3 separate regions of the Homo sapiens genome follow, and regions 2 and 3 are each linked to region 1. Evidence: fine-mapped expression QTL. A gene starts in region 1. Each other region holds a variant in brackets. All regions are shown on one strand. Distances are between the middles of the regions. Region 1 holds the start of LRPAP1 (LDL receptor related protein associated protein 1). Region 2 has its middle 19 kb from the start of LINC00955. Region 3 overlaps LRPAP1 (LDL receptor related protein associated protein 1).

Region 1 (8,178 bases):
GTCATGCATTGGCCTGGCGAGTCCTAGGTGCCCATGGAGGCCACTGGCTGGCCCATCCTCAGAGGCCCTTCTCAAGCCAGGGGGGACGCTTGAGAGCTGGGGTGGGGCTCTGAGGGCTCCTCTCTGCAGACCTCAGTTTCCACTCGTCAGACCTCTGAGAACAAGATGCTTCACACACTCTCATTGCAGTCACCATTCACGTCAGAACTAAGGACTGTCTGCGTGCGGTGCCTCCTGGGACTACACCTGTAATCCCAACACTTTAGGAGGCAGAGGCGGGAGGATCACTTGAGCCCAGGAGTTCGAGACCAGCCTGGCCAACATGGTGAAACCCCGTCTCTACTAAAAATATAAAAATTAGCCAGGCATGGTGGTGCATGCCTGTAATCCCAGCTACTCAGGAGGCTGAGGCACGAGAATCGCTTGAACCTGGGAGGCGGAGGTTGCAGTGAGCCGAGATCACGCCACTGCACCCCAGCCTCGGCGACAGAGTGAGACTCTGTCTCAAAAAAAACAAAAAAACAAAAAACCAAAAAAACTAAGGACCTATGGCCAAGGACTCCGAGCTCATGGCACCGTGCAGCCCAGGCCAAGAGGTACACGAGTGTGTCCCTGAGCGCCGCAGCTGGACCATGCAGACCCTGGAGCTTACTCCTCAGCATCAACACAACACACAGAGCTCTGAAGAGGCAGAGTCCTCAGAAGTCGTCTGTGAGCACAAGGGCTCTGCATGGCCTCTGACCTCCAAAGCTCCAGGGACAGCCTCTGCTCAGGAGTCTTGCAACACAGTGGAGCCCGCCTGTGAAAGAGGAACTGGGAGAGTCACAGAAAGTCAAGATTCAAGTTGCTGGAGAGGATGAAGCAGCACCCCCCTGGCCGGGTCTCGCCTGATGAAAGCGGGTCTCAGCATCTTCTTGGCGGCAACCTCAACGCAGGTCTCACAGCCCAAGCCCATCAAAGGCAAAGGTTTCCTGAAACGCTCCCTTCACCCTATGCCTACTGACACACTACGCAATCCTATATGCCAGGATGTGGCTTTACATGCAGAAAACAGGGACACGATGTTTTCATGAAGCAAACCAAAGAAAGGACAAGACCGTCCTGGCTGCTGAGCGCAGGTCGCAGGAGGCTGAGAGCAGTGGCTGCAGAGCCGGGCAGGAAGTGCTTCTCTGAAAAAGCAGCCCTCACCTCAATTATCTTCCAGGGGGCGATCCAAGACCCCGTCTCCGTCTGATACCTACCTAGAGCGGCGAGTCAGGTGGGGTAAGAAGCCGACTGGAGTGACTATTTGCACGAACAATTCTCTCCCCCTACGTTTGAACTGACTGTGGCTCCTCCTGCCTCCTGACCACCCTGGGCCCTGGCACGCTCGGCAGAAAGAGCCACAGCACAAAGACCACCCGGGATGCACTACCGCCACTGAGAACCTCAAAAAGACCCGGACGGGTCTGACGCCTGCACACTTGGCTCCAGGATAGAACACCCTCACAGCACCGCCACCCTCCAAGCTTCCGTTATCTGGAAGGAAAATCAGGACGAATGGGCTCTGCAGGCCTGCCTGCCATAGTACCAGGCTCTCTGGAATGGGGGAAGACACACAAAATCCCCCAAAACACCCTCACCCCCGAAGAACTTCACGTTCTGTTCAGCAAAAAAGACTTGCCCACACAACTAGAACTTCAGGACTTAAAGGGACCAGAAAGATCATCTAGTCCAAGGCTCAGTCCAAAGTGGAGGTGAGCAGCTCGCCCTACCATGGTGCCCAGTGAACCTCAGGGAGGTTTAGGAGACATGACCCAACCCAAGACTGAAACTGGTCAGGCGAGCACCCAGCACCGGGGGACAGTGCAGGGGCAGCCCGAGGGTAGCTGGACCAGTGCAGGGGCAGCCTGAGGGCAGGTGTATTGCTGCAGGAGGCCTGGGCTGACAAAGACAGAGGACCAGCTGGAGGTGGCTGGAGGTAAGGTGGAGCGCACCAGGGCGGCCCTGCAGAGCAGGTGGAAGACTTGGGCCAGCACCCAAAAGGGAGCCGCTGGGGTTCCTGGGTCCGAGTGCACTTCCTCAGCGCCACCTCCAATCGGTCAGGGAGTCTATTTCGGGCTCCCCATTCCTCATGGGGAGGGGGGACTCCACCCACTCAACAGATGCCCAGTGCAGTGGGCACGGGGAGGCAGCACTGCATCCCGGCTGCTCCTGGTCACACCTGTTCCCTGCTGCTGGGAGGCCATCAACACATCCAAACCCAGCCGTGTCCCCAGCCCCTCCAGAATCCCTTCCTCCAAGAAGCCGCCCTGCCGCTCCAGCCCAGAGCGTTCTCCCACCTCCCACCTCCGCAGGCTGAACATTACGCCTGGGGCTTGACTGCTGGTCCCAGGAGCAGTTCAGGAAGGGCCTGTGGAGCTGATGCCCAGGCGTCAATCCCCATCCCCACGCAGTCTTATAACCGTCTGTCGTCTGTCTGTCCCCCACCTGTTTCTCCTCTCCCTTTTCGTTCCAAAAGTTCCTTCTTATTCTGCAAATCACTTACTTTCCCTCTCAAAGACTCAGGAATGCTTAAAACTGGACTATTGAGACAGAGATCTAATCTGACTCCTGCATTTGAGATGAGATAATGAGGCCCAGATGGTCGGCATAGTTCGAAAACACCCATTTCAGGTGTTTTCAGGAACACCTAACAAATGAAGCAACCGTATCTTAATGAAGAGAGCAGCTGGCCCAGGGTCACGCACCAATTAGGAAGCTGTTGTCCCGGGGGGCCCCACCGGCCGAGCCACCTTGGGGGTGCCCTTTCCCCTCGGGGCCTCCGTACCCTCATCTCTCAAATGAAGGAGAGGTCAGGTGAGCGCCCTGTTAAGACTGACTTTCAGCATTCCCAAGGTCGCGTTTTATGTGCTCTAAACCGATCCCATCTCCTCACCTCCTCATTTCTCGCTCAAATGAACAAGCACGGGCTTGCTACTGGGATTCCTTCTGTCCCTGGACACGTCTTTCTACCCAACATTTTGTTTTTCTTGTTTCCCCACATAGGGAGATAAGGTTGAGGGAACAGGCAAAGGCTCGGGAGGCAGGAGACCTGTGATCTAGCCTGGTTCTGTCCCTACGCTCGGGTCAGCAGGCCGCCCAGGCTGGGGAGGGCGACACTGACCCTCGGGGTGCCGGCCGCCACCTGCTTCACACGGCGTCGTCGCCGGCACGGGTACCTTTCCTGCTGCAGAAGGGGTCGGGGCGCCCCACCTGACACTTGGGGGAGGCTGTGCCAAGGACAGGGCGCGTAGGGCACAGGTGCCCCGGCTGCGCCCCCCTCCGCCTCCGACCCCTGGGCCCCGCTCCAACGACCCCAACCACGGCCCCCGCCCCCAGGCCCCGCTCCACCGACCGCGGGCCGCGCTCACTCGCTGGGCCTTCTCCCACAGCTGGTTCAACTTCTCCATGCGGAACTCCTCTCCGGACTCGCGTTTCGGGGACGGCTTGGGCTGGTTCTTCTCCCGCGAGTACTTGCCGCCGTGGCTCGCAGCGGGCCAGGGCCCGAGGAAGAGCAGCAGCAGTAGCAGCGCCGGGAGCCCGCGCAGAAACGACCTGACCCTCCGCGGCGCCATCTTCCTCTGCGACTGGCGCTGCGCGGAGAAAACCTAGCCTGCCGATGCCCCGCCCACTACCCCGCCCCCACCCACCGCGCGGTCTCCTGGGAATTGTAGTTCCTCCGTGAGCGGCCGGCAGCGGCGAGGCCGCCGGCGGACTCCAGCGCCTAGGAAGCCCTGCGCAGGCGCAAGCGTTTCCCAGGCAACCACGCCGCGGCCCGAGGCTGCAGACTCTGGCAGGGGATACAACTGGAGAATGAGGGTGGCCGGGTGGGAGCAGGGATCAGGCCTCACCCAGAGCCCGGAGCCTGGAGCCCGCACGACTCGAGGCCTCTTTCCCTCTCTGCCCCACAGAAAGAGCGGAAAGCCCAAGAACCGGGCCGCGTTTGGCTGAGCCTGATAATGCTCCGGCTTCACGCGCACTGACGCCGACTCTTGCATGTCCAGTGCCGTTGCGGGGTTGGCACTGCGGCCCGGGCCTGGCGCTGAGGAGCCTGGCCCAGCCCGCTTCTGCCCTCCGCGGAGCGCCTGGCCGTGGGTAAGCCCAGGCCAGGTTGTCCCGGGGACGCAGGGCCGCGCAGACGTCCCCCTACGTCCCGGGGCCCCTGCCCCAACCCGCGTCCCAAGCGCCTGCTCTCGCGCCTGCTGCAAGGCAGGACTTCGCGCGCTTTTCCCCAACCCATGACACTCTAGGAAATTCACAGAGCCAAAGTTAGCATAGACCGCTCGTTGGGGGCTTGGCCAGTGAGTTGGGAAGTGCCCTGGAGGTAGCGCGGGAAACAAGGGGAAGGAGGGAGACAGACAGCAGCTGGGCCCCTTTGGGCTCAGAGAAGGGACAAGGGGAGCTCATCTGGCAAGAATGATCTGAAAAGGCCTCCAAGGGTGGGCGGGATTTTGCGGGGGGAGGGAGGAATTTCCAACTGGAGGGACAATGACAAAGGGGGTGAATAGAGCCTGGGCATCTTGAGAGGAATTAATGTTAATTCATTTCCTTTTTTTGCGTGGGGGGATAGGGTCTCTGTCATCGAGGCTGGAGTGCAGTGGCATGATCATGGCTCACTGCAGCCTCGACCTCCTGGGCTAAAGCGATCCTCCTGCCTCAGCCTCCCAAGTAGCTGGAACTATAGGTGCGTGTCACCACGCCCAGCTAATTTTTGAAATTTTTTGGTAGAAATTAGGTCTCCCTATGTTGTCCAGGCTGTTCTCCAACTCCTGGGCTCAAGCAACCCTCCCGTCTTGGTCCCCCAAAGTGCTGGGATTACAGGCGTGGGCCACTGGGCCTACCCTAATTTACATTTAAATTGTATCTTGTGTTGTTCCAGAGAAGATTTCAGGTCCCTGGAATCAAGGTGATCTGCTTCTGTCCTGTGCTGCTTTTCTAGTATTTTCAGAGCCATCGTTTCATTTCTTTTTTTCCAGCTGTTGAGTTGTTTCAGGCAAGAGGGTAAATTCAGTCTGTTACTGCATCTTAGCTGGAAGCACAAGTTCCCAATATGGGATGTATGGGGGAGAGGAGGTAAAGGAATCCCCCAGGAGGGTGGTGGAGGGAGAATGACCTCATGCGAAGTGACTCCAGAGACAGATCAAATGCTGTCATTGCCATCATTGCATGTTTTTAAGCCTCAGGACAGAATGGCCAGGTGAGCCTGGCCTAGATTCTCACCTGTGCCTGCCTTCCCCTTGTGTTCCCTCGTTCCTGCTCTTCTCTCCATCTCCTGGTGCCTAGAATCAGAGGTCACCTGTTTTACCCCACATACATGTTTTGCCCTGACCCCACTCCTGAGAGCTACAGGTAGGTCTTGGTGGGCTTAGAAGGGGATAGTCCAAATTGGCCTATCCCCCCCAAGCATGTCCCTGTTGGTCATCTGGAATGTGGTCCTAACTGCAAATGTTCCAGCTCTGTGAATCCTGCCCCCAGTGTCTCTAGAAAGGCCCGTTATAAACCCACAGGAATTGGAAGCTGGACTGGGAGCAGAGTCTTCTGGGATCCTGCATCTGACAGTGGTGTGGGGTTCTAAGAGCCCTTTTCCTATACAGCCCGGTTTCCCAGATAACTAAGCAATATTTTATTCGTGGCTGCATACACAGGCAATGAAACTAAAGAAAGTCAGGGGATGGCTAAAGGATGGAGGATACCTGGGCTGGGGGAGGAGGGAGAATGCGACGGGTGAACACAGACAGGCTTCCAAAGTGGTGTCCAGGTTGTAGTTCTTCACTAGGTGGTGGGCACACAGGCATGCATTTTTCCTTATCTTTAAATTGTACATATTTCATACACTTCTCCGTATGTATTATACATTTCAAACTAGTACATCTTCTAAAAAATCACAGTGGTTAATGCAATCAGTACAGGTGCCAGGCACATACCAGAGACTCCAGGTGACGGCATGCTCTCCTCTTGGGCTCCTCCTCTAGGGCTGAAAGTTTATTTCTCACCCCTGCCGCCAGCACCCGCCATGCCAGCCCGTGTCTCTAAGTGCTGAGGGGAAGGTGTATGAACAGAGACAGATACGGCCGTGGAGGAACCCGGAGGGAGGGCCCTCCACTTGGTGAGGACGGATTGTGAGGCTGGTCAGTGCTGAAGCTGAGTATCTTGCTTACGAGAGAAAAGGGGAACTGTGCTTATAGGACCATCTCTCAGAGCAAAACAAATTGAGTCTCTTGGGAAGCCTGGCATTGAGGATTGTCCAGCTTTCAGAAGTGAGAGTGTTCAGCCTGACTTCAGGGGCACAAGGTTCTTGCTGCCTGGGCCTGTTCTGTAGTGTGGGGCTGTCCCTGACTGGCCGGCTTTCAGAAGCATGCAGCATTGTCATTGACTTATTGGGGTTTCATGCCACCACGGCCAAAAAGCAGTTTGTTTTTGTCCTTGAGTTTGGACTATAGATTGTTATTCTCTCCAGGCAAAGGCAGGAAGCACACGGGAACAGGTAGCGCCAGGTGGCTGCAGGCAGGTGGTCTGGCTGGAGCTCAGTGCAGAAGCACAAGACGGTGGTGAAGAGTGAGGCAGACCCAGGGGACTGAAACGCCACTGGAAGGAAGATTCCACCCAGAGCAATGGGGGCCACAGAGTGATCCTGAGGGGAGAGTTACACAGAGATGCGTTTGAGGAAAAGCAGAGACCAGTGGGAATGCTGGTGCTCTCCGCCAGAGGAGAGGCGAAGGTGATCGGGATGAGATAGAGACACGGAGGCAGTGAAGATGGAGAGGCCATGTGAAGGTGGAAGGGACAGAATTTGGTGACAAGCGTCCAGACTGACGCCCAGGTTTCCACTTGGGGAGACCAGAAGGTGGCAGGGCGAATTCCAATGCCAGGTCTCCAGGGAGAGCACGCTCAGGAGGAAGATGAGAGTCCGGGTCCCTGTGGGATGGACGTGGAGCCCTCCAGGGGCACTGAACTCTATAGATCTGCCAGTCAGGGGCAGAGGGGTCCAGGGCAGAGGAGACAGAGATCTGGGCACCACCCACGAAGGCACAGTGGGCAGGGGATGGAGCCCTCTGGAGGGAGCCAGCGCAAGGGTGCGAGAAGGAGCTTGCAAAGGAAGCAGAGCGGCAGCCAGGACAAGGGAAGGTGCCCGCGAGGAATTTGCCTGTAGACCCCAGGGTTGAGTAGGCTTTAAGGAGGAGCACATGGGCAGCGTTGGGCCGCTCACAGACTGAACGCACAGAGGCTGGTGTAGATGCCTGTGGCCTCTGCCCTTGCAACAACCTCTGTCTTGGGTCAGGTTTCCTGGAAGCAGAGCTGAGATGGAATTCCTGTGGAGGTGATTATGGAGGGGTGCTCCTAGGAAAGGAGAGTGGGGGTAGAGAGCCGGTGCAGAGAGCTGAGCAAGGCTGTGACTGCTTCAGCCTGGTTGGATGAAGGGGAGCTCGGGAGCACTGCACCTCACGGCTGTCCCTGCCTTGAGGCCAGGACCATTTTGTGTCTCCTCTCCCTCCCCTCATCAATCAGGCACTGGGTTGTGGGGGAGGGTGTGACCTTCTGGGTGAGGCAGTTTTCCCACTTGGCCTAGGGCAATGAGCCTCCGCTATCCTCAGGCAGCCACCATTGCCTGAAGACAAGTGAGACCCCATGTGCTTGGGCAAAACCAACCCCTTCCCAGCTCCCAGCATTCAGGGAGGGTCTTTGAGTAAGACACCCTCAGCTGCCTCCTCTGCTGGCAAACTCCCTGTCACTGCTTTCCCCACTGTCTGCCACTGTAGACCCCAGGATGAAGCTCATTATGCTGCTTCTCCCTCTGTATGGAAAGTTCGAGTCCCCCCAGGCCACCCCTTGCCCCAGACAGCTCTGTAAATCCCCTTCTCAGACCCCTTCCCCCATCCCCAGTTCCCTCAAACCCTTCCACTCTCGAGCTCCTGACCAGCCATGAGCAACGTCCCCCATATCCTAAACTTTTTGTAAACCAAAAATAAAATTCTGAGGGCCCCCCAGCCATCTGAATGGACTTCCTCCTCTGCCAGGGCACTCTTTTTTTTTTTTTTTTTTTTTTTTAACTTCTTAAATGCACAAATTTATTTTTTCTCAACAAACACACATCTTAATGCCTTTACAACTTTTATCTCCCCAAATATATCTTGCTTTTCTTTATACATGCTGTATACA
Region 2 (8,178 bases), 25 kb after region 1:
CTGGCTGCCTAAAGGATTATTTCTTTATCTTCAAAGTCCAGTGATTTTACAAAGGCATGTTTTGTGTTGACTGTTCTGGGCCAACACACACAAGTATACAGCATGCACTTTTACAGGCAGGCGCAAGTCTGCCTGCATTTCAATAAAAGAGGTCTTGAATGATAGTTTCAATCCTTGTTCATCAGGTGCTGTGGTGCACACCTGTGGTCCCAGCTACTCAGGAGGCCAGAAGTTCAAGGCCAGCCTGGGCAACGCTAGCTTATATGAGATCATCTCTCACATAAATCAAGTAGTCAATTGTTCTGATCTGTTAGTTTTGCCTATCGTATGTGTACGCTGGAGCCCCTTTACTGTTTTTTTTTTTTTTTTTTTTTTTTTTTTGAGACAGAGTCTCGCTCTGTTGCCAGGCTGGAGTGTAATGGCACAGTCTCAGCTCACTGCAACCTCTGCCTCCTGGGTTCAAGTGATACTCCTGCCTCAGCCTCCCGAGTAGCTGGGATTACAGGCACACATCACCATGCCCGGCTAATTTTTGTATTTTTAGTAGAGACGGGGTTTCACCATCTTGGCAAGGCTGGTCTTGAACTCCTGACCTTGTGATCCAACTGTCTTGCCTCCCAAAGAGCTCGGAGCTCGGATTACAGGCGGGAGCCACCGCGCCCGGCCCTTTACTGGTCTTTTATAGTCACTTTCTCTCTAATCCTTTTTAATCTCTTTCCTCTTTCTTTCCATTTGCTCACTTTTTCCTTTTTTACATGATTTTCGTGGTGTCTCTGCTCTCGTATTACCTGTAACTTCATTTCTTCATTTCTGAAATGGTTTTGTCTTTTTCTTCAGTTTCCTTCCTGAATTCTGTCATTTCCTACCACAGACTCCGCTGCCGTTTGGCCACCTCTTCCCTGCGTTCTTATTCTGTGCTTATTCTCCTCTGTTCTTATTCTGTGCTGTAGTCTCCCTTCGGAGCTGAAGTTCTTGTTGGAATATTAGATCATGATTTTCATCTGGTTTGTGGCAGTATTTGTCTGATGAGATTTCTTCATTTGTAGGAGAATAGCACTGCTTTTATTTTTTATTTTTATTTTTTAAGACTGCAGCTTGCTCTGTGACGCAGGCTGGAGTGCGGTGGCACAATCGTAACTCACTAGAGCCTTGACCTACAGCCTGCACTCGAGCAATTCTGCTGCCTCTGCCTCCGGAGCAGCTGGGGACTATAGGTGCATGCCACCATGCCTGCCTGGGTTTCTTTTTTTATTTTTTTGAGAGAGGGTCTCCCTCTGTCACCCAGGCTGGAATGCAGTGGCACAATCTCAGCTCACTGCAATTTCTACCTCCTGGGCTCAAGCGATTCTCCCATCTCAGCCTTCTGAATAGCTGGGACTACAGGTGCACACTATCGTGCCCGGGAATTTCTTAGTATTATTATTATTTTTTTTTTTGTAGAGACAAGGTTTCACGATGTTGTCCAGGCTGGTCTCGAACTGCTGGGCTCAAGTGATCTGCCCACCTTGGTCTCCCAAAGTATTGGGCGTGAGCCACTGTGCCTGGCCTTTTTTTTTTTTTTAAGTTAGACACTTAGGTCTCCTTATGTTGGCCAGGCTGATCTTGAACTCCTGGCCTCACTCAATCCTCCCGCCTCTGTCTTTCCCACAAAGTGCTGGTGTTACTGGAAAAGGGGGGGCTCTGATCCAGACCCCAAGAGAGGTCTCTTTGATCTCATGCGAGAAAGACTTTGGAGCGAGTTCACGGAGTAAAGTGAGAGCAAGTTTATCAGGAAAGTAAAGGGATGAAGAGGATCTGAGGTCTCCTCCCCTCCCTTTTGAGACCTTATAAGGTAACCTCCAGACATTGCCATGGCATCTGTAAGCTGTCATGGTGCTGGTGGGGGTGTCTTTTAGCAGCTAATGCATTCTAATTGGCATATAATGAGCCGTGAGGACAATCAGAGGTCACTCTCGTGGCCGCCTTGGTTTTGGTGGGCTTTGGCCGGCTTCTTTACTGCAACCTCCTTTATGAGCAAGGTCTTCATGACCTGTATCTTGTGCCGACCTCCTATCTCATCCTGTGACTTAGAATGCCTAACCTCCTGGGAATGCAGCCCGGCAGGTCTCAGCCTCATTTTACCCAGCTCCTGTTCAAGATGGAGTTGCTCTGGTTCACACGCCTCTGGCATTGGGATTTCAGGCGTGAGCCACTGCGCCCGGCCAGCATTGCTTTTGGAAGTGGAGAGCGTGCCCATTCTTGTTACTCGTTTATTTGAATAGGATGGTTGTTCCGGCCAGGAGGTGCTGGGCCACGGCTCCTGGGAGGACCTCAGCACCACTCGCTCCTGTTGGCAGCTGAGCCAGCCCACCTTGAGGTCCTGTGCCTGGGTTACAGCTGGTGGTGTGTGGGTGCACAGTGATGGCCGGCCTCTGAGAGCTGGGGCGGGCCAGTGCGGCCTGACTCTGCCTGTAGGAAGCTCTAGAACAGGTCACGCTGATCTGCAATGAAAAGTCGCCTCTGGAGGGGGTGCAGTGGGGACTGATGAGCGCATATCTCGGGGGTGGTCAGGTTCTTATCTTGGTGGAGTCCGCTTTTGTCAACTCCCTGAGTGACACCCTTGAGATCTGTATAGCATGCTGGGTTGAACTGTGACTCCCAAATTCATATGTTGAAGTCTTGACCCCTGTATCTCAGAATATGCCAGGGCAGAGTCAGCAAAAAGAGGAAAATCTCCAGCCGGTTCCCCAGCTCTGAGCCTGTACCTGCCTTGGGGCCAGGAGAGGCTGAGGTGTGGGAAAAATGCATATTTGGGTTCCTCTGCCAGAGCATGGTCCTCCGTGGAGTCGGCCTCCTGCAGAGGGGAGCAGCAGGTGCTGTTGCATGCTACCGTCTCCCCTGAGCCTCTCAGGGTCTCCTTAGGAAGAGGGTGCATGTTCCCTCCCAGGTGCAGCTCACCCCTACCTCTGCCCCCCACATCTCCCTCCCCCCGCCCCAGGCAGCCCCCAAGACTTTCCTTGCCCTGAACTCCCATCTGCCTCCCGGGTCTGTCCTCTGTCCCTGGCTGCTCGGGTCAGCGTGGCCTCCGGTTCTCTCCCTTTCTGTCCCTTTTGCACTCTGGCTCCCTCTCTAGGCTGCGGTGCAGTGAGGACGCTGCCCAGGGCTGGAGGCTGGCGGGAGGTTGGGTGTGATGTGAGGCTGTGTTGCCGGCTGTTCTGGGGATGCTGACAACATTAGCGTGGCTCATGTTTATCGTGGGTCTAGCTCCCCTTGTACAGACATGGTCCTCTTCCCTTCCTCCGCGGAGGCAGAACCCTGATGCGTCGTGGGGCATGTAGCTGGCCAGAATGAAAACCTGCATCTCCCAGCCTCCTCCCTGAGGCTAAGTGGAGCCGAGCTGCTAAGTCGTGGCCAGTGGGTTAAAGGCAGAAGTGCTGTAGGAGACTTCCAGGAAGATGGCTCAAAAACAAGCTGACTCAGCTGGGACTTCTGGGAGGGGCCCTTTTCTGCCCTGTACTTTTCCAGCTTTCTTCCACCTGTCCTGTGGTCTTGATGGCTGGAGCACCAGCAGCCACCTTGGACCATGGAGTGGCTTTGAGGCTAGACACTATGCGTGGAGGACGAGGAGCAGGACAGCCAGGATCTGGGTCCCTGAGGACATCGAGGAGCTGCCACCTCACCCTCAATCAGTCATCCCCAGATTCTCCCTTCAGAAAGAAATCAGCTTCTTTCTTGTTTATGCTTCTTTTGCTGGGATTGTCATATGCAGCGAAACCAAACTGTGGAGTCCCGATCAGCTGATAGAAATGAGGAAGGGGTTCCCTCCTCTGCACAGCTCCATGGCACCACAGGCCCTAGCTGGCAAGAACATGAACTAGGGTCGGGGAGAGC[C/T]GTTGTTCTAAGAAATGGCTAACCACAAGCAGCCCGCTTGCACAACCTCATGTTACCAAATACCTCACTCTGCACGTTAGCTCCAGCAGCATGACCCTGTCTGCATGGGGCCTCTCCAGCGTGACCCTGTCTGCATGTGGCCTCTCCAGCGTGACCCTGTTTGCATGTCGCCTCTCCAGTGTGACCGTTTCCACATGTAGCCTCTCCAGCATGACCCTGTCTGCATGTGGCCTCTCCAGAGTGACCCTGTCTGCATGTGGCCTCTCCAGAGTGACCCTGTCTGCATGTGGCCTCTCCAGCGTGATGCTGTCTGCGTGGGGCCTCTCCAGCGTGACCCTGTCTGCGTGGGGCCTCTCCAGCGTGACCCTGTCTGCGTGGGGCCTCTCCAGCGTGACCCTGTCTGCGTGGGGCCTCTCCAGCGTGACCCTGTCTGCGTGGGGCCTCTCCTGCGTGACCCTGTCTGCGTGGGGCCTCTCCAGCGTGACCCTGTCTGCGTGGGGCCTCTCCAGCGTGACCCTGTCTGCGTGGGGCCTCTCCAGCGTGACCCTGTCTGCGTGTGGCCTCTCCAGAGTGACCCTGTCTGCATGTCGCCTCTCCAGCATGACTGTATCCACATGTGGCCTCTCCAGTGTGACTCTGTTTGCATGTGGCCTCTCCAGCATGACCCTGTCTGCATGTCGCCTCTCCAGTGTGACCCTATCAAACTTCCCCCTGGCCCCTGCCCCTGGGGAGGTGGCCTTCTCTCTGCCATGCTGCCTGCTGTTCTCTTGCAAGGTGTCTTCAGACTTTCTTTACCCACGACTGTCTCGGTAAATTCTTTTACCACCCGTGACACCAGCCCCAGCCAGTTGCACCTGCAACACTGGCTGCAGTGGATTCCTTGTTGCTGATACTCCACATAACGTTGTTAGGTGTCATATATGATCATTCTTTAACAGAGGGGCAAGCTGAGGCTCAGAGAGGTTAAGGCACTTGCTCAAGGTCACACAGCAGAGAGGTTGTGAGTAAGCCAGGCTGCTGGCTTAGAACACTGCCATGGCATTTCTCAGATCACCTCGCTCAGGGACTCCTGGCAGTTCCCCCTGCGTCATAGCGGTGAGTCTGTCCAGGATGAGCCACTCCAGGCTACCGAGGGCCAGCTGGAGGGCCTGCAGACACCTGCTGTGGAGTCAAGGTCCACACCATCAGCCGGAAGAGAGGTCTCAGGAGGGGCATTAGTGTTTGTCCTCGCTGTGATTGCACTGACTGACAAATCAGCTGTGGGACAATGGAAAACACAGTAGCAGCTTGTTACTGAGAAGGGAGGACTCAGGGTGGACCTGACCCCTCTGCAGATGGCTTGGTGAGAACGTGGCCTGCCCTGTTGGCTCCTCCCTCTGGGTATTGGAATTGCCGGGCAGCCAGAGGCTTACCTGGGGTTACTGGCACCCAGGGAGGAGAAGCCCTGAGCTGTGCGGCTGCTGAGGAAGGCTGTCTGCAGGGGAGAGCCCGAGCGCTGAAGGAGGCCAGTGGGCTCAGCCCGATGTCTCCATTCTCCTTCCTACAGCAACCAGGGTGCTTGGAGCAACCAATTGCCCCCCCTTACCTGGTAGGGATGCTAGGAGGGAGAGCGAGCCATTCCTCTAACATCAGTGACCATGTCTTGGTTCCAAAACCCCTTAAGCCTTGGGTTATTTATCAGCAAAAAGAGAAGGGAGGTGCTCAGGGGGTCTTCGTGGAGATCCCCTGCTCCCCTCGCCTTGAATGTGGAGAGGGCCCAAGACTCCCTAGGGAAGGCAGGTGATATAGACTCCAGGTGTGCCCTGCTCCGTCCTCGGCACCACTCTGCAGCACCACAGGCAGTCTGGGGTGCAGATAACATCTCCCTGGGCACAGCTTCGCACCAGGGCATGCTGGGGTACAGCCACACTTGCACAGCCTGTGGATCCCTGCAGCCTGGGGATTGGGCTGCTATTCCCACTGCAGGGAGGGAGGTGGTCGGAGGTAGGGGCTGCTCCTACCTAGGTACTTCTGGCCTCACCAGAAGAAGGGGGAGGGTTTGCACATTGAGTGGCGCCTGCTCCATGTTTGTGCCTGTATTTACATCATTATTCTGAAGGCCAAGAGATTGGACCTGCCGGAGCTCCATGCACAGACCCTGTGCAGGTGCATGTGGGCTTCTGGCTTCCTGGTGTGCACAGCCCCTTCTCTCCCTTCTGGACTGTGGCAGTGTACTAGGGACATTGTAGCCACTGTGTAAAGTCTCCCGCTTTCTGGGACAATTTTATTCACTCATGTGTGTTGAGAGCTTGTTTTGTGCTGGGGTCCCTGGGGAGAACGCTGGGTTCACTCATAGTTCCACAACAAGAGACCTGTGGCCTTTGTTGTGGACAGGGGCCAAGAGCACGTAGAGAAGGCGCTGAATGCTCCTTGGCTTCCAGGGGAAAGATCAGGACTGGAAGGATGTGGGAACTGCCCAAAGCTACAGAATCTGCTGTCTCAATGGCTGAGCAGGGTGCAGAGTGCATGCGGCTGTTTGTTCTGTGGCACTGGTAACCTTGGCACTTCTCCAGGTGTGAAGGACAGCATGGGAGTGAGCCTGTGAAGTTGTAGGCAGAGTCCAGGCAGCCCCGAGCCTGGGTTGGTTGTAGCTGTCAGAGTGGCAGCAGGTGGACAGAGGGGATGGGCTCGGGGGGAGGCGGGGGGACCCGCTTGAGTGGGAGTCAGCCTGGGGGCATCTCAATCCCTCTGATGCCTGGTTTGGGTCCCCAGCACTACTTAGCCCACCCCACTGAGCCTGTCTGTGCCTGGCCTGGCACTGGTGATGCAGGGACTGAGTCAGGCAGGGCACGACCCAGAGAGCCCATGGGCAGACAATGTTGGTGCTGCATGCCCGGGCTTAAACCAGCAAGCCTGATTCTGAATGTCCACAAGCTCTTGGCTGGTGGGGCCACAGGACTGGGACCCAAGCCTCCTGGCGACATGGGTGAGGCCATCTGTCATCGGTCCTTCTCTCAGGCCACCTGGTTCCCTGTGACTCACTTGGTGTTGGCCAGGTGCATGGATGCAGATCTGAGCAGACAGTCCCTGTGTCCCCAGTCTGGTTGGGGGTGCAGGGGTCTGGAGCCCATGTGAGCCTGGTGAGAGCCTGGGAAGGAACCACTTTTTCCATGGCAGAGCTGAGTGCAAAGCACGCTGTTGCACTGCTCTGGTGGTGGCATTTTACTCTGTAACCTATTCATCCACACACTCATGTATTTCTCCACCCACCCATTCATCTACTTATCCACCCATTCACCCATCCATCCACTTATCCATCCACCCATCTACACATCCATCCATCCACCCACACACCCATCCACCCACCCACCCATCCACCCACCCATCCATCCATACACCCACCCATCCATCACTTATTTGTTCATCTATCCATCCATTCCCCATCTGTCCATCCACCTACTCACCCATCCATCCACCATCCATCCAACCATCCATTCATGCATCCATCTACTCATCCATTCATCCATCCATCCACCCATTCACCCACCCACCCATCCACGTATTGACCCATCCATCCACCCATCCATCTACCCATACTTCCATCTATCCACATACCTGCCCATGCACCCACTCATCCATCCACCCACCCACTCACCTATCCACCCATCCACCCATCCATGCATCCATCCATCCATCCCCCCACCCACCCGCCTCGTCCCTCCATCTGAAGGTCATTACGGAACAGCTGTGAAGCTGAGATGCTGGGGACCCAGTGGTTACTCAGGACAGTCATGGACACTGCCCTCTAGGCTGTGCTTCCTGGCAGGCAGAAGCAGCGAACAGGACCCTTTGCAGATAGTGGTGTCTGCTGTAAAGGAGAGAAAACAGCGAGAGTAAAAGAGTTGAAGAGCTACTGGGGTCTCCTGGGACTCTTTTCCATTCTGAGTCCTGAGCCCACCGAGAAGTAAGGCATGAAGGCAGGTGCTGGAAACCCAAAACCCTTCTATCAGTGCCAACTCCTCCATCAGGTTGTAAACCAAAAGATATCTGAGACAGGTCTCAATAAATTTAAAACACTTATTTTGCCAAGGTGAAGTAAGGGCCTGTGACACAGCCTCAGGAGGTCTTGACGACATGTGCCCAAAGTGGTCAGGGTACAGTTTGCTTTTTTTTTTTTTTTTGTTATTTTATTTTATTGAGATAGAGTCTCACTCTGTTGCTCAGGCTGGAGTGCAGTGGTGCGATCTCGGCTCACTGCAACCTCCGTCTCCCGGGTTCAAGCAATTCTCTGTCCCAGCCTCCCCAGTAGCTGGGAATATAGGCGCATGG
Region 3 (8,178 bases), 23 kb before region 1:
TATTTTTAGTAGAGATGGGATTTTGTGATGTTGGCCAGGCTGGTCTCAAACTCCTGGCCTCAAGTGATCTGCCCGCCTCAGCCTCCCAAAGTGCTGGGATTCCAGGCGGGAGCCACCCACACTTGGCTCAAGCTGGGTTTTTTTTTTTTTTTGAGGCGAAGTCTTGCTCTTGTCCCCAGGCCGGAGTGCAATGGCGCGATCTCGGCTCACTGCAACCTCTGCCTCCCAGGTTCAAGCCATTCTCCTGCCTCAGCCTCCCAAGTAGCTGGGATTACAGGTGCCTGCCACCATGCCTGGCTAATTTTTTATTTTTAGTAGAGATGGGGTTTCACCATGTTGGCCAGGCTGGTCTCAAACTCCTGACCTCACGTGATCCGCCCACCTCCACCTCCCAAAGTGCTGGGATTCCAGGCATGAGCCACCGCACCCGGCCGGCTCGAGCTGTTTTTAAGAGGATATATCCTGGTTTGCTGCTGTGTAGTTTCCCCAAAGTCTCAATTTGATGAGAAAATAGAAAGACCACTAGAACGGAAAAATAAAAAATAAAAATTAGATTTCATCAAACTGGAAACCTTTGCTTTCCAAAAGATAACCATTAAGAAAGTAAAATAGCAAGCCAGAGGATCGGAAATTATTCACAACACATATCTGAGGAAGGACTCACACCTAGACCTGGGAATAACGCTAAGACCAGGCTGGGTGTGGCGGCTCCCGCCACCTGTAATCCTGGCACTCCGCGAGGTGGAGGCAGGTGAATCACTTGAGACCAGGACTCCGAGACCAGCCTGGGCAACACAGCGAGACCCAGTCTCTATAAAAAAAACCTTTTCTTTAAATTAGCAGAGCATAGTGATGCATGCCTGTAGTCCCAGCTACTCAGAAGACCGAGGTGGGAGGCTCGCTTGAGCCCAGGAGTTTGAGGTTGCAGTGAGCTATGATCGCACCACTGCACTCCAAGCCTGTGCGAGAAAGATCCTGACTCAAAAAAAAAGACAAGATTTCCAAGACCCAGTTTTTTAAATAGGCAAAAGAATTAAGTAGGCCCTTCCCAAAGACGCCACCCAAATGGCCAAGAGCAGACAAAAAGGTGTCATGCCTCTGGCACCAGGGAAGTGCAAGTTACTACAAAACGAAAACAAAAGAATCAAATGGATTTAATTGTCTTTTTGTTACTGATTTCCTCCTCAATTGCACTCTGGCCAAAGAATGTGATTTGTATTATTTACCTACATATCATATATTTATACATTATCATCTGCGAATTACTGACATTTGCTTTGGGTCCTAGTACCTCGTCCATTTTTAAAAGATTCCATGCGTGCTTAAGAATGTTTTCTCTAATGGGCATAAGTAGACCAAGTTTTTAACTGTATTATCCCATTCTTTCATATTCTTCATCAATGATCTAAGCCTCTATCAAAAGAACCTAAAACAAGGACAGCAAATTGAACACAAAATAGGTAGAAGAAAGGAAATTCATAAGAAAAGAGCAAAAGTCAATGAAAAAGAAAACAATAGAAAAAAAAAATCAATGGACCCAAAAGTAGGTTTCTTTGGGGAAAATATCTGTAAAAATGATAAACTCTTAGCTAGTCTGATCAGGGGGAAAAGAAAACACAAATGGCCCAGAGCAGGAATGAGAATGGACATCACTGCACAGAGGATACTGTGAATGATTTATGTAAATTGTTTTGATAACTTAGATGAAATTCTGCGACAAACCTATCTTTAAAAAAATGACAAAGGAAGAAACAGAAAATCCAAAAGCCTCATGTCTTTTTTTTTGAGACAGAGCCTCGCTCTGTTGCCCAGGCTGGAGTGCAGTGGTGTGATCTCAGCTCACTGCAACCTCCACCTCCTGAGTTCAAGTGATTCTCCTGCCTCAGCCTCCAGAGTAGCTGGGATTACAGGCATGCACCACCACACCCTGCTAATTTTTATATTTTTAATGGAGACGGGGTTTCACCATGTTGACTAGGTTGGTCTCAAACTCCTGACCTCAGGTGATCCATCCACGTTGGCCTCCCAAAGTGCTGGGATTACAAGCGTGAGCCACCATGCCAGGCCTCATGTCTATTTTTAAAAATCAAGTTCTTAATGAAAAACCTAAGCAAAAAGAAAATGGCAGGCATAGATGGCCTCACCCATCACATCTCTATGAAACAAATAATGCCAATCCTATACAAACTATGGCAGAACTTGTTTCAGGAGGCCCACTTAATGCAATATCAAACCATGACAGACACATCACATGACAAGACAATGAACATCCAAGCCCAGTGTCCCTCAAGAGCATTCCTACACAGGAGGTCCTTAGCCCGGTATGAGCAAATCTCATCTGGCCATGCAGAGAAAAGGCCAATGCACCATGGCCACAGGGACTTACCTGGAAATGCCAGGTCATCTTGGCATATGAAAGTCAGCGTAATTCACTACAGTAATGCGGTAAGGAAGTGACCTCATGAGCATCTCACTAGGTGCAGGAAAGGCAGCTGACCACATTCAACACGGATTCAGGAAAAGCCCTCAGCAAATGAGGAAGCTCTTCTGCCTGTAAGTGCACCAGTGCAAACCCAACACTGAGCCGGGAGAGACTGAGCCCATGTTCACCGAGACTGGGAATAAGATTAGCGAGCGCCGGCTCACCTCACCAGTGCAGTGAGAAGCCGAGGCACAGACTGACAAGGGGAAGCAAAGCCACTGTCAGACAGAGGACACGCGTGTGCACACGGAAACCCCACGAGTCCACAGAAACACCGCCATGGCCAAGGCGGGAGTTTAGGGCACAGGATTAAAGCACCACGCACAGGTGACAAATGAAATAAAAATACACAGTCCTCAATAGCATATCGAACACCTAGGACTAGATCTAAAGGAAAACATGCCAGACACATGCACAGAAAACTCCAGTTCATTGTTGGGAGAAGTTGAAGATGAACTCAATACCTGGAGTCATACATGGCAGTCAACGCATGGACACCGGAGACTGTTGAGACGCCGACTGGAGTCACACACGGCAGTCAACGCGTGGACACCGGAGACTGTTGAGACGCCGACTGGAGTCACACACGGCAGTCAACGCGTGGACACCGGAGACTGTTGAGACGCCGACTGGAGTCACACACGGCAGTCAACGCGTGGACACCGGAGACTGTTGAGACGCCGACTGGAGTCACACACGGCAGTCAACGCGTGGACACCGGAGACTGTTGAGACGCCGACTGGAGTCACACACGGCAGTCAACGCGTGGACACCGGAGACTGTTGAGACGCCGACTGGAGTCACACACGGCAGTCAACGCGTGGACACCGGAGACTGTTGAGACGCCGACTGGAGTCACACACGGCAGTCAACGCGTGGACACCGGAGACTGTTGAGACGCCGACTGGAGTCACACACGGCAGTCAACGCGTGGACACCGGAGACTGCTGAGACGCCGACTGGAGTCACACACGGCAGTCAACGCGTGGACACTGGAGACTGCTGAGACGCCGACTGGAGTCACACACGGCAGTCAACGCGTGGACACTGGAGACTGCTGAGACGCCGACTGGAGTCACACACGGCAGTCAACGCGTGGACACTGGAGACTGTTGAGACGCCGACTGGAGTCACACACGGCAGTCAACGCGTGGACACTGGAGACTGTTAAGACACCGATTCTTCCCAACATGTATTCAAGACATTCAGAAAAGGTATTCAAAAATGCGTTCAAGGGAATTGCTATTGAAATTCCAGAAGGCAT[GT/G]TTTTTTGGTAGAAATTGAGACACTGATTGTAAAACATATATGGAAACACCAAGGACATAAACAGCCACAAGAATCTTTAAAAAGAAGAGTTGGAAAATGCACATCACCTCGATTCAGGGTTTATTATAAACCCAACTGTAGCCAAGACAGTGTGGCGGCCGGGCACCATGGCTCACACCTACAACCTGTAATCCCAGTAGTTTGGGAGGCTGAGACAGGAGCATCACTTGAGCCCAGATCAAGACCTGCCTGGGCAACATAGTAAAACCCCGTCTCTACAAAAAAAATAAAAATAAAAAAAATAAAATCAGCCGGGTGTGGTGACACACGCCTGTGGTCGCAGCTACTACTCAGGAGACTGAGGCGAGGGGATTGCTGGAGTATGGGAGGTCAAGGGTGCAGTGAGCTGAGATCACGCTACTGCACTCCAGCCTGAGGGACAGAGCAAGACCTTGTCTAAAGTGTGGCAATGGCAAGAGCGTAAGGACAAACAGAAACAGACCCACACAGGTAGGTCAGTTGATTTCTGACAAAGGCGCCAAATTAGGAGAAAAAAGCCTATGCAGCAAATAATCTGAAAGTTAAGGGAGAAATGGATCCTGACTGCAACCCACACTGGAAACGTACACTCCTGAGTAGGGACTGGATACACACGCGGCACACACCCACACAACAGGCCGCCACGCGGCAATCAGGAGTCTGCCGCTGATCCACGCAAAAGCCTGGGTGAATCTCAGATGCTGAGCGAATGTAAGCAGATACACGCAGACATACACAGACGCACGCAAAGACACAGACTGCCCAGAGCCATGCACGTGGAACCCATGGCAGGCGGGAGGTAGGGAGCTGCGGTGGTAGGAGTCAGAATGGGTACCCCTGTGGGACTGGCTCTGCGGAGTGGAGGGCATCACCTACATCCTTCGTGAGTGCGCACCATGACCAGCCACACCCATGGAACTAACACTCGGTATCTGGGTTTTTTGTGTAACTGCCTCCCCTCAACACCATGGTCTCCCACATACAAAAGAGGCCATTATACAGTAAGACACGCTACTCCGCAATTAGACACCACAAAACGCCAGCCAGGCTGTCCATAATTAAAAATACCGAGCACCAAGTCTCAGCAATCCACTAGTGTTCTCCTTCCACCCAGCTGGGAGAAAGAAACACAGTCCAACCACTTTGGAATCATCTCTATACTTGGACAACACGCTTCGTAAGATCCATTAGGTGCTCCTAGAGTTGGCCCCCACCCCCACCCCCACACGAGTGTTCACCACAGCTATTTCCAAGTGAGTGTTATTACCCCAGAAAGGAAGCAACTCAAATATCCACCCACAATAAAGTGCATTAAAATCAGAGCACAGGACAGTCATGCAATGGAATACTATACAGCAATGAAAAGGAACACACTTCTGCTAGATGACAGGGCTGAGTCTCACCAACACACTGAGTACCTTAAGGCTCTCAGGATAATGGGAAAAAAAAGAACCAGAATCCACCCCCCGCCCCACCAGCCACACACACACAAGTCCACAAAGGAACAGGCACCCACATGCTGTACCCTGGGGCCCTTCCAACCCTGATGCGCCAACTCCCGACATGCTGCCTCTAGCCTTGACCTTTCTCAGAAATGATAGCTTAGCGGATGTTTGGCAGATCTCAACAGTCAAGCCAAGATCCAGCTGCAGTCAAAACACAATACGCCTGGTGGAGCCTCTTCCAGGTTCAAACACGGGAACCACGCTCGGAGCTGGACCCGGACCCGAGCCTCTTCCAGGCTCAGACACGGGAACCACGCCCAGAGCCGGACCCGAGCCTCTTCCAGGCTCAGACACGGGAAGGGAACCACGCCCAGAGCCGGACCCGAGCCTCTTCCAGGCTCAGACACGGGAAGGGAACCACGCTCGGAGCCGGACCCGAGCCTCTTCCAGGCTCAGACACGGGAAGGGAACCACGCTCGGAGCCGGACCCGAGCCTCTTCCAGGCTCAGACACGGGAAGGGAACCACGCTCGGAGCCGGACCCGAGCCTCTTCCAGGCTCAGACACGGGAAGGGAACCACGCTCGGAGCCGGACCCGAGCCTCTTCCAGGCTCAGACACGGGAAGGGAACCACGCCTGGAGCCAGACCCGAGCCTCTTCCAGGCTCAGACACAGGAACATTCTCGGAGCCGGACCTGAGCAACCGCCAGTCCATCAGCTATGGTCAGAGGAAGGCCTCCGTGGCTGTCTCTCCCCCATGAGATGGGGCATTTACACAGCACACTTAGGGACACGGAGGCCCTGCAGGTTTGGTGAGGTCTCCCGAGGTCCCTGAGCTGCAGAGGTGAGAGTTGAAAGACGCTGCCCCCAGGCCACAGTCTCTGACTGTCCACAGAACCACACGCTCCACATCTTCCCCTCAAACTCAACTCAAGCGCTCTTGGCTTTAAATCAGGCCGGGCCGTCTCACGGGAAAAGGAGGTTGGCTGCAAAGACCCACAGGGCCCAGAGGGGAAGCTGGCTATGACGCGATCCCTTCAAGAGCACTGGCTCCGGCCCCAGCCACCAGGACACTTAGTGACCAGCCAACAAGCGGGTGGTTTAAATACTGCACTCTATTTTTTAAGGACTCTGTGCATGGTATTTCCGGTGGCAGATGTGTAAGATTTTTTATGTAAATCGTGTTGTTTTAGCAGAGGACTATCAGACCTGACAGCAGCTGGACATCGAGGTCCTCACTGGGGTGGTGACTGCCACGCTGATGCTGAGTGGAAGCCAAGCCCCTTCAGTCAGAGCTGGGCCGATCTCAGACCCAAATGCTACCACCACCAAGCCCTGTGTCGCGACGGCAGCGGCTGCAGTCACCAGAAACAATCCTTCCTGCCTCGACACCCGTGCCAGCCCCAGCCACCCTGACGGCGGGCTGTCCACGGAAATGCCACGGCCAAGAGCCCAGGTCCTTCACGCTGGCCTCTTCCCTGCCGGGCTGGGCTCCCCAATGCCTTCAGAGTTCGTTGTGCCGAGCTCTGGAGATCCTGCCGGACAGGTCCTGCAGATGCTTCTTCACCTGTGGACAGAAACGTCTCATCAGCTGGGGACAGCGCGCCTCGAGGCCAGCTCTGTGAGCTCAGCCTCATGTCAGGAGACGCGCGATCCAAAAGGAAAAGGCGCAAGCCCTGCACATCTGACTTTCCAATTCCACACCCATCCAGAAATGCTCAAATCACAAAAGCAGCTCAGTACTAACTAGAAAATCCCACCAAAGAACGCTAAGAGCCACCAGCCAGGAGCAGTTCATGCTGAAGTGGAAAGCTCAGGGTCTCTGTGATAGGCCCATGGTGTTATTTATTTACTTACTGAAAGGGTCTCGCTCTGTCACCCAGGCTGGAGTGCAGTGGCATGATCTCAGCTCACTGCAACCTCTGCCTCCCAGGCTCAAGTGATCCTCCCACCTCAGCCTCCCATGTACTTAGGACTACAGGTGCCCACCGCCACGCCCGGCTAATTTTTTCTACTTTTGGTAGAGATGGGGTTCTACCATGTTGCCCAGGCTGGTCTCGAACTCCTGAGCTCAGATGATCCACCCACCTCAGCCTCCCAAAGTGCTGGGATTACAGGTGTAAGCCACTGTGCCCAGCCCCACAGTGTTATTTTTAAAAGCAATGACCAGAGAGACTGGGACAGAGCTCTGGGAAAGGCGCCTTCCTCCTCAGGGCCTGGGAGGGAAGGAGAGGGACCTCCAGCTCCTCACATCACAACAGCCCAGAGCATCCCCACAGATACCACCCCAGTGGCAGCAGGTGCTGCGTCAGCCCAGCCTGGGCTGGGGTCACTGTAGCTCTCCCCAGATTCTCACAAAACCCTGCTCGTGGGCGCCACCTCCCTCTCCACATAGAAGCCCGTGGCTCAGGGTGAATAACTCACCGAAGGTCCCTTCTCTCAGCGGCCCTGACCTCTGCCCCAACGGTGCGGGTGCCTCAGGCAGTGCCACACGGCTTTCTTAACCAACACCGAGCTTTGCCGTGGTCAGGTGAAGCTAGGTGCACGCTAGCATTCCATCCCCGCGTCTCGCGGGAGCGCCCTGCAAACCCCACATGGTGGTGCTCACCCTGGACCTGAGCTCCTGCCCACGGGCAAGGGCCACAGGCTGCTCTCCTGCACATTCTGCCAGGCAGACCCGCACCACCCTCTCCTATCAGAACTTCTACCTTCATTTATTTTTTAGGCCTTTGCTATTTTTGAATCGGTAACACATGCCTGCAGTTCAAAGTTTAAAAGGCACAGATGGGGCTCCTGAGCCCCAGCTCCCTCCAGAAAGAACTTGGCATGAGCTTCCAGGGTTTTCTGTGCCTCTGTGGCAAGGCTGTGCGCTGGCTTCAGCTTCTCCTGGGCTCTGCCCCTCCTCCCCTCACATCCCAGGGGCTGTGGGGAAGGAGGCTCGCCTGTC

The links. PIP is the estimated chance that this variant, and not a neighbour inherited with it, causes the effect.
Region 2: its variant is fine-mapped to the expression of LRPAP1 in whole blood (TOPMed, PIP above 0.99).
Region 3: its variant is fine-mapped to the expression of LRPAP1 in lung (TOPMed, PIP 0.98).

The regions. Positions count from the first base shown.
Region 1 is chr4:3,528,817-3,536,994 of GRCh38, forward strand. It overlaps LRPAP1 (LDL receptor related protein associated protein 1), which reads right to left and starts at 3,606. Exons shown (of 8, transcript NM_002337.4): 1 at 3,393-3,606. The coding sequence starts at 3,596. RefSeq lists enhancers at 1-228, 3,386-3,595 and silencers at 3,096-3,345, 3,786-3,845.
Region 2 is chr4:3,553,325-3,561,502 of GRCh38, forward strand. No RefSeq gene overlaps it. Among named protein-coding and RNA genes, the nearest start is that of LINC00955, 19 kb to the right of the region's middle. The variant C/T (reference allele first, on the strand shown) is at 3,871.
Region 3 is chr4:3,506,239-3,514,416 of GRCh38, forward strand. LRPAP1 (LDL receptor related protein associated protein 1) reads right to left here. Exons shown (of 8, transcript NM_002337.4): 8 at 1-6,798. The coding sequence ends at 6,736. Among named protein-coding and RNA genes, the nearest start is that of LRPAP1, 22 kb to the right of the region's middle. RefSeq lists an enhancer at 2,611-3,810. The variant GT/G (reference allele first, on the strand shown) is at 3,747.